2 linked regions of the Homo sapiens genome follow. The protein of the gene in region 2 purifies or fractionates together with the protein of the main gene of each other region. This does not show direct contact. Each region holds a gene or a part of one and is shown on either strand. Other genes may lie near its edges.

Region 1 (3,500 bases), on a different chromosome or scaffold from region 2:
AGAAATCAGGGGATTCTTTAAGACACTTGAGAAAGGACAGCAGATGATCCAAACCTCTCCGGCCCCACCTCCCAGCCTAGGGCTCTTTCCTGGGCCACCCTCCACCTCTCCCATCAAATTAAATCACTTTCCTACACCTGACAGCAGCCCACTGTCATAAAGCAAGTAACAAGCCGAAGGTCTGTGTGGGAGGTTGATTTGGGAACACTGGATGTACTTAATGTGGAAAGAACCAGGAAAACTCCATCCAGATGCCATGGAGATACCAAGGGTGGCCACGACGCCAGGGGACCCAGGAAGAACTTCGTCTCCTTCACTCACCTGGTCCCCTTCTTGTTGGGCACTGTGTATGGGCGGAGAAAATCCAGCTTGTTCTTGCTGATGACGCAGAGGTCAATGTTGCTTCCGGAGCCCAGGTCGTTGAAGATGCCAGCTGCGATGGCTTCGCTCACCAGATTCTTGGCTTCCTCCTCCTGAGAAACAGAACGGCGGCAATAATGTCCCCGGCCAAACTAGGGCCTGCTCTGACATCCGCAATGTACGTCCACTAGCAGTGCGCAAGACCTCCCGCGAGACAGGTGTTGTTTTTAATGCCCATCTCACAGATGAGGAAAAGATCTCAAAGTACCTTGATTATTTACCCAAAGTTCCCGACCCAGGCCTTTAAAACTTTTTATGCATGCACCGCCTCTTGACCACATCAGACAATCACCACAAAACGATGGGCTGACAGTTACTAGAGGGTTAGTAACTTATCTTTAAAAGGGCCAGGTAGTAAATATTTTAGGCTTTGTGGCCAAAAGTCTCTACCACACCTACTCAACTCTGTCACGCTAGCACAAAACAGCCACACACAAATACATTAAAAAATGGGTATAACTGTGTTCCAATAAAACTCTATTAGCAACAGGCAGTGGGCCAGATCTGGCCCACTGACTGCAGTTTACTAACTATCCCCTGATCAAGAATGTCCAACAATAGCTGAAAGTTACTTGAGAAAGTCAGCACTGTAGGAGGAAGAAACTAACACCAAAACACAAGCCGGTAGTTCTGGGGAAATGCTGGCAGACCAAGGGCGGGACCTCTTGCCCAGAATAATCTCTCTCTCCTACTAAGGAACCTATAGGTTCACTGAAGTAATCCATTACTTTGAATCACTCTCTCCTTTGCCCCACCTTTAAACACAAATCCCCATCCCTAATAGTTACTGGTGAACAGATGGACTCATCCCTTTCTTATCCGAGAAGCCCCATCACATGCTATGTCCTATCACATGCTATACCAGAAGCTAGGGCTGCAGAGGTGGATGACGCCCCCAGATCCCTGCCCCCTAGGGGCTTAAGAGTCTAGCAGGGGCACCTGACCCAAGTAAGTACAATGCAGGGTAAGGCTGGCTAAAGAGCACGTGAAAAGGAGCTGGGAACACAGCTGGTCAGCAGAGCTTCAGGGAGGGCTGAAGGACAGGCTGCACACGAGGCACTCAGAAAACAGCAGTGAAACAGAAGGCAGGCAGCAACGGCAGTGGTACTGGACCTGGGGAACACCAAGTTCAAGCTCTATATACAACGAGGACAAAAATGAACCAGGCTCCCTGAAAGCAGGGAATCTAACCTGTGCTACGGCGCCTTCCCAGTCCACGAGGGCGTGAGAGTACATACACATGCAAGTGCACTCCAGCGCTCACCCAAGCAACACCCTTGGAGAAACACGGACTCCAGGCCCAAATCCAGCCTGAGACCCTCAAAGGGCAGATCCGCTAACCTCAAGTTTTCAGAAGATCTGAACCCACTGGGGGCTCCTGCTCCTCTGCCTGCCCCATGCCAGACTAGGATTCCAGTGACATAAGCGCCCTCTACAGACTCAGAAGGACAGAGAAGGTTCTGCTGGAAGTGGGCTCCTCAGCAAACCAGCAGATAGGGGTTCCTTTGATATTTATACCCCAGGTTTTTTCACTCTCACGTGACATCTATGTGGGGCCAATGAAGCCAATTCTTCTTTTGTACATATGCAGTCCTGTAAGAATGCATTCAAACGGGATCCGCTAATTAGGAATTTTCTCCTGGAATTCTCAACAGTCTATGGGGCCAGAAGCTTTCCACAAACCAGTGAAGGTGGCAGCAAAGAAAGCCTCTTAGACGAGGAGCTGGCAGCAGCTGCTATCTAGATAGACAGCAAAAACCAACCACTAATTCAGCAAACACAACCTCATACCTAACCGCTTCCCTTTAAATGGCCTTCGGTGTGTGCGCACATGGGCACGTGCGGGGAGAACCATACTTATTCCCCTGTTCCCGGCCTACCACCTCTGCTCCCCCTTCTCTTCTCTACCATTTAACTGTCTCCTCTGCTTTGTTTCTTATCACTGCTGCTGGTGTCTAGAGCCAGCCAGCAGTACCTGGCAGACATCGCGACCCTGCGGGCAGCGCTTAGGACTGCACATTTACATTTCCCAAATGATCTGGGTAGATGGGGACAGGTGAAGACTTGGGGAAACGGAAATATACGAATGACATGAGACATGCATATCTAGTGTCAATCCATTCGACTGGGCACAGGACAGCAGACTGCTGACAGTGCTATGTAAGATTATGAGTGATCCTCCCTCTATTTTGCAAACAGTCTGTAAGTAACTGATAAAACTTTAAAATATGCAAATTTTAAAATTATATAGTTTGATTTACTCATCAAATTATCATGTATGCTGTTATTTAAGTATGAATAAAGGCTTTTTTAAATTGGGAAAATACATCTTTTAAATTCCTTTCCTCCCCACCAATTCTAGGGAAGATCATTCCTTAAGGAAGAAAATCTCAAGTTTCTCACTTTTTTCCCCCCAGTCCCACTCCATGTCTCATATACACATGGCTGAAGATGTTAGGAGATGGAATGAAACTTAGATTTATGGAGCACCTATATGCTCACTAAAACAATCAATCAATCAACATCTACCAGCACTCTAACGTGCCAAGCCCTGAGTTGGGCACTTTGATGATCATCATGTTCACCCCTGCCCCCAACCATCTTTTGATGTTGGTATGGTCAGAAACTCTGGCTGACGGTCAATGACTTACACAAGGTCACACAGCAGGTAAACAAAAAATAGTAAAACAGGCCCATCAGGCCCCAGAGCCACAAGGCCGCAGCACCACACCAACTCGCAAGTGACCTTCCTTGGGCCGGGGGCTCCTCAGCTAGTCCCTGACTCAAGGCTGTGTCATTCACGCCCCACCACCAAAGAGCCTTAAGACCTGGGTAAATTTAAGAGGAGGAGGATGGTGTTTGCCGGTTTCTCTCTGGGCCAACCAGCAGCTCCTCTGATGGTCACTCCCATTGGGGGTTGGAGGGCAGTGTTTCCCAAAATACCCAAGACTACCACTTCAAGGGCCTTCTTCATTCTCAACCAAGTTAGGGCAACATCTCTACAATGCAACACCAGATCAATATTAAGATCTAAGGTCTTATTTAACATATCCCTCCCTTAACACCCCAAACCCTCATAA
Region 2 (3,500 bases):
GTAAATGCAAGCAGACTACAGTGCAGTATAAGTAAGTTCTCATGGTACAGTCTGGGTGCTATAAACTCTCAAAATTAACAAATCAAAGTTCCTTTCCAAGACAAAGTCTCACAGAAGAGAAACTGCTGGGAGTAGAATCCAAGTTGTAGAATGCCAGACAAAAGAGACAAAGCAGTAAGTTCAGACAGAAGTGGTGGAGAGAAGCAGAAAAGGCACATCTCAGAAAGCACAAGGTACATGTATTCTCACTTTGCAAAAGCCAGAGAAGAGACAGCTTTAACCTAGAAAATGAACTAGGAAAGTTATCCTTGCCCATTCCCTCCCTCCTAAAAATACACAAAAATTCATTTCACTAGTAGACAATAGCAAAGAAAAGGATCTCAGTCAGATTCCATAAAAGTTATTGTGGTGTCAAGAAAATTAGATAGGAAAGGAATAGTCTTTTCAAGAAATGGTGCTGGGAAAACTAGATATACATATGCAAAAGAATAAAGCTGGCCCAGGTGCCATGGCTCATGCCTGTAATCCCAGCACTTTGAGAAGCCAAGGTGGGTGGATCACATGAGCTCAGGAGTTTGAGACCAGCTTGGCAACATGGCAAAACCCCATCTCCACAAAAAATACAAAAATTAGCTGAGCATGGTGGCATGCACCTATAGTCTCAGCCACCCTGGGGGCTGAGATGGGTGGATGGTTTGAGCCCAGGATGTCGAGGCTGCAGTGAGCTGAAATCACACCACTGCACTCCAGCCTAGGCGATGGGAGTGAGACCTTGTCTCAAAAAATAAAAAAATAAAAAAAATAAAGTTGGATCCCTCCTTCCTTACATCATATAGAAAAATTAAATGTATCACAGATCTAAATGGAAAGTAAAACTATGAAACTTTTTTTTTTTTTTTTTCTGAGACCGCGTCTCGCTCTGTCGCCCAGGTTGGAGTGCAGTGGCATGATCTCAGCTCACTGGGTTCATGCGATTCTCCTGCCTCAGCCTCCCAAGTAGCTGGGATTACAGGCGTGCACCACCATGCTCAGCTAATTTTTGTATTTTTAGTAGAGAAGGGGTTTCACCATGTTGGCCAGGCTGATCTTGAACTCCTGACCTCAGGTGATCCACCCACCTCGGCCTCCCAAAGTGCTAGGATTACAAGCGTGAGCCACCGTGCCTGGCCAAAACTATGAAACTCTTAAAGGAAGCATACAAGTAAATCTTTGTGACCTTGAACTCAGCAATGATTTCTCAGTTGAGAAGCCAAAAGCACAATGATAAAAGAAAAAGTAGGTAAACTGAGCTACATCAAAATTAAATACTTTTGGGCTTCAAATGATATCAAGAAAGTGAAAAGAGAACCTACACAATGGGAGAAAATATTTGCAAACCATGTATCTGATACATCACTGTGTCCACAGTGCTTACAATAGCCTATAAGTACATGAAAAGATGTTCAACATCATTAGTCGTGAGAGGAATGCAAATCAAAACCACAATGAGGTATCACTTCATACCACTAGGATAGCTAGTATAAAAAAGTAACAAATGTTGGTGAAGATACAGGAAATCAGAACCTTCATACCTTGCTGGGGAATGTAAAATGGTGCTGCCACTTGAAAAACAGTTTGGCAGCTCCTCAAAATGCTAATTAGTTACCATGTGACCCAACAATCCCACTCCTAGGTATATACCCGAGAGAAATAAAAACTTGCACATTCACAGCAGCATGATTCATAATAGCCAAAAAGCAGAAGCAACTGAAGTGTTCATCTGATGAATGTATAAACAAAAAGTGGTATATCTATACAATGGGGTATCATTCAGCTATAAAAGGAACAATACATTGATACAAGAAGTATCAATATGAAGGATGACCCTTGAAAACATTATGCAAAGTGAGAGAAGCCAGTACACAATTGCAAGATTCCATGAAATGTCCATGAACTGTCCATAACAGGCAGACCCAAAGAGATAGAAAGTAGATTGATTAGTGGTTTCCAGGAGCTGTGGGGGTAGGGGAGAATGTGGAGTGACTGCTAATGGGCATAATTTTTCTTTCTAAAATTTGAAAATGTTCTAAAATTAGATACTGGCAATTAGGCGTGCCTCTGTGAATATACTAAGAACCACTGAATTGTATACTTTAAAAGGGTGAATTTCATGGTATAAGGGTTTTGCTCAATAAAACTGTTACTTAAAAAGAAACTTATTTTAAAAGAAGAGATAAGGTGATCTAAAAAAAAAAGTGATAAAGAAGATCAGCAAAAGTACATCTACAATGGCAGGTCCTGAAGAAGAAAACCAAAGCAGTAATACAGAACAAATACCAAAAACAACTCAAAAGAACTCTCCTAAAATGAAAGACAGCTTGAAACTACATATTGAAAGGATATCCTGTGTATCTAGGAACACTGACCCTCTAAAGAAAAGGGAAAAAATCATTTGATCACCCACATTTTTTAAAAAGACCAAATCGCAAGTAGGAAAAAGAAAATCAGATTGTGATCAGATTTTGTGACAGCAATGCTTTTTTCCAGAAGTCCACAGAGTAACTAAGGTATGCAAAGAAAGAAAACGTAAGTCATGGATTTTATAAACAATCAAACTAATCTTCATAATCATGTACTTTTGTGGAATATGGGAATAATGCACCTGTGGGCACCTTCTGCATCACGTACTATAGAATGAGCTTCAGATGACCAAAAAGACTGAAGAGACGTTAACGTAAGGTCTGGTGGATAACCAAATCATTTATGAGGGTAAACGTCTCATTACAGAAACATAAACTATCTGCAACCACACACATTAATATGAATGACACCACAGGAATGCAAAATCGAGACTGAGAAACCCTACAGGACCAACTTGACAGACACCAACCTGGTTTCTTCCTCAAGAATAAAACAGCAAGAAAAAAAAGAGGGATGCAAGCCCTACTTTAAAGAGGAACTTAAAAGGTATGTCAATTGTGGCTGGGCTTGGTGGCTCAAAATCCCAGGACTTTGGAAAGCCGAGGAGGGCTGAGGCAGGCGGATCACTTGAGGCCAGGAGTTTGAGACCAGCCTGGCCAACATGGTGAAACCCTGTCTCTACAAAAAATATAAAAATTAGCCAGGCATGGTGGCGGGCGCCTGTGATCCCAGCTACTCAGGAGGCTGAGGCATAAGAATCACTTGAACCCAGGAGACAGAGGTTGCAGTGAGCCAAGATCGTGCCACTGCACTCCAGCCTGGGCAACAGAGTGAGATTCGGTCTCAAAAAAAAAAAAAAAAAAAAAAAAAAAGAGATATGTCAATCGCAAATGGATGGCCCTCCTTTGGATCCTGCTTCAAATAAATAGTAAAAAGAAAAAAAAAATTGAACACTGATAGGCCATTTGACGAAAATAAGGAGCCAATGTTCATTTTGGGGCATTTAATAATGATATGGTAGTATTTTTTAAAGAGGTTTTATTTTTTAGAAATACATAATGAATATTTATAGTTGAAATGGTATGTATAGGCTTGATTTT

What was found. The genes of interacting proteins can lie anywhere in the genome.
Region 1: the proteins of DYNC1I2 (region 2) and PSMB7 fractionate together in Homo sapiens (co-fractionation; one large-scale study listed by BioGRID). This does not show direct contact.

What each region holds. Positions count from the first base shown.
Region 1 is NC_000009.12:124,356,443-124,359,942, forward strand, and holds part of PSMB7 (proteasome subunit beta type-7 precursor), read right to left. Parts: intron 2,745-3,500; exon of another isoform or gene 474-2,744; coding exon 322-473; exon of another isoform or gene 1-321. UniProt on the Homo sapiens protein: Component of the 20S core proteasome complex involved in the proteolytic degradation of most intracellular proteins. This complex plays numerous essential roles within the cell by associating with different regulatory particles.
Region 2 is NC_000002.12:171,739,469-171,742,968, reverse strand, and holds part of DYNC1I2 (cytoplasmic dynein 1 intermediate chain 2), read right to left. Parts: intron 1-3,500. UniProt on the Homo sapiens protein: Acts as one of several non-catalytic accessory components of the cytoplasmic dynein 1 complex that are thought to be involved in linking dynein to cargos and to adapter proteins that regulate dynein function.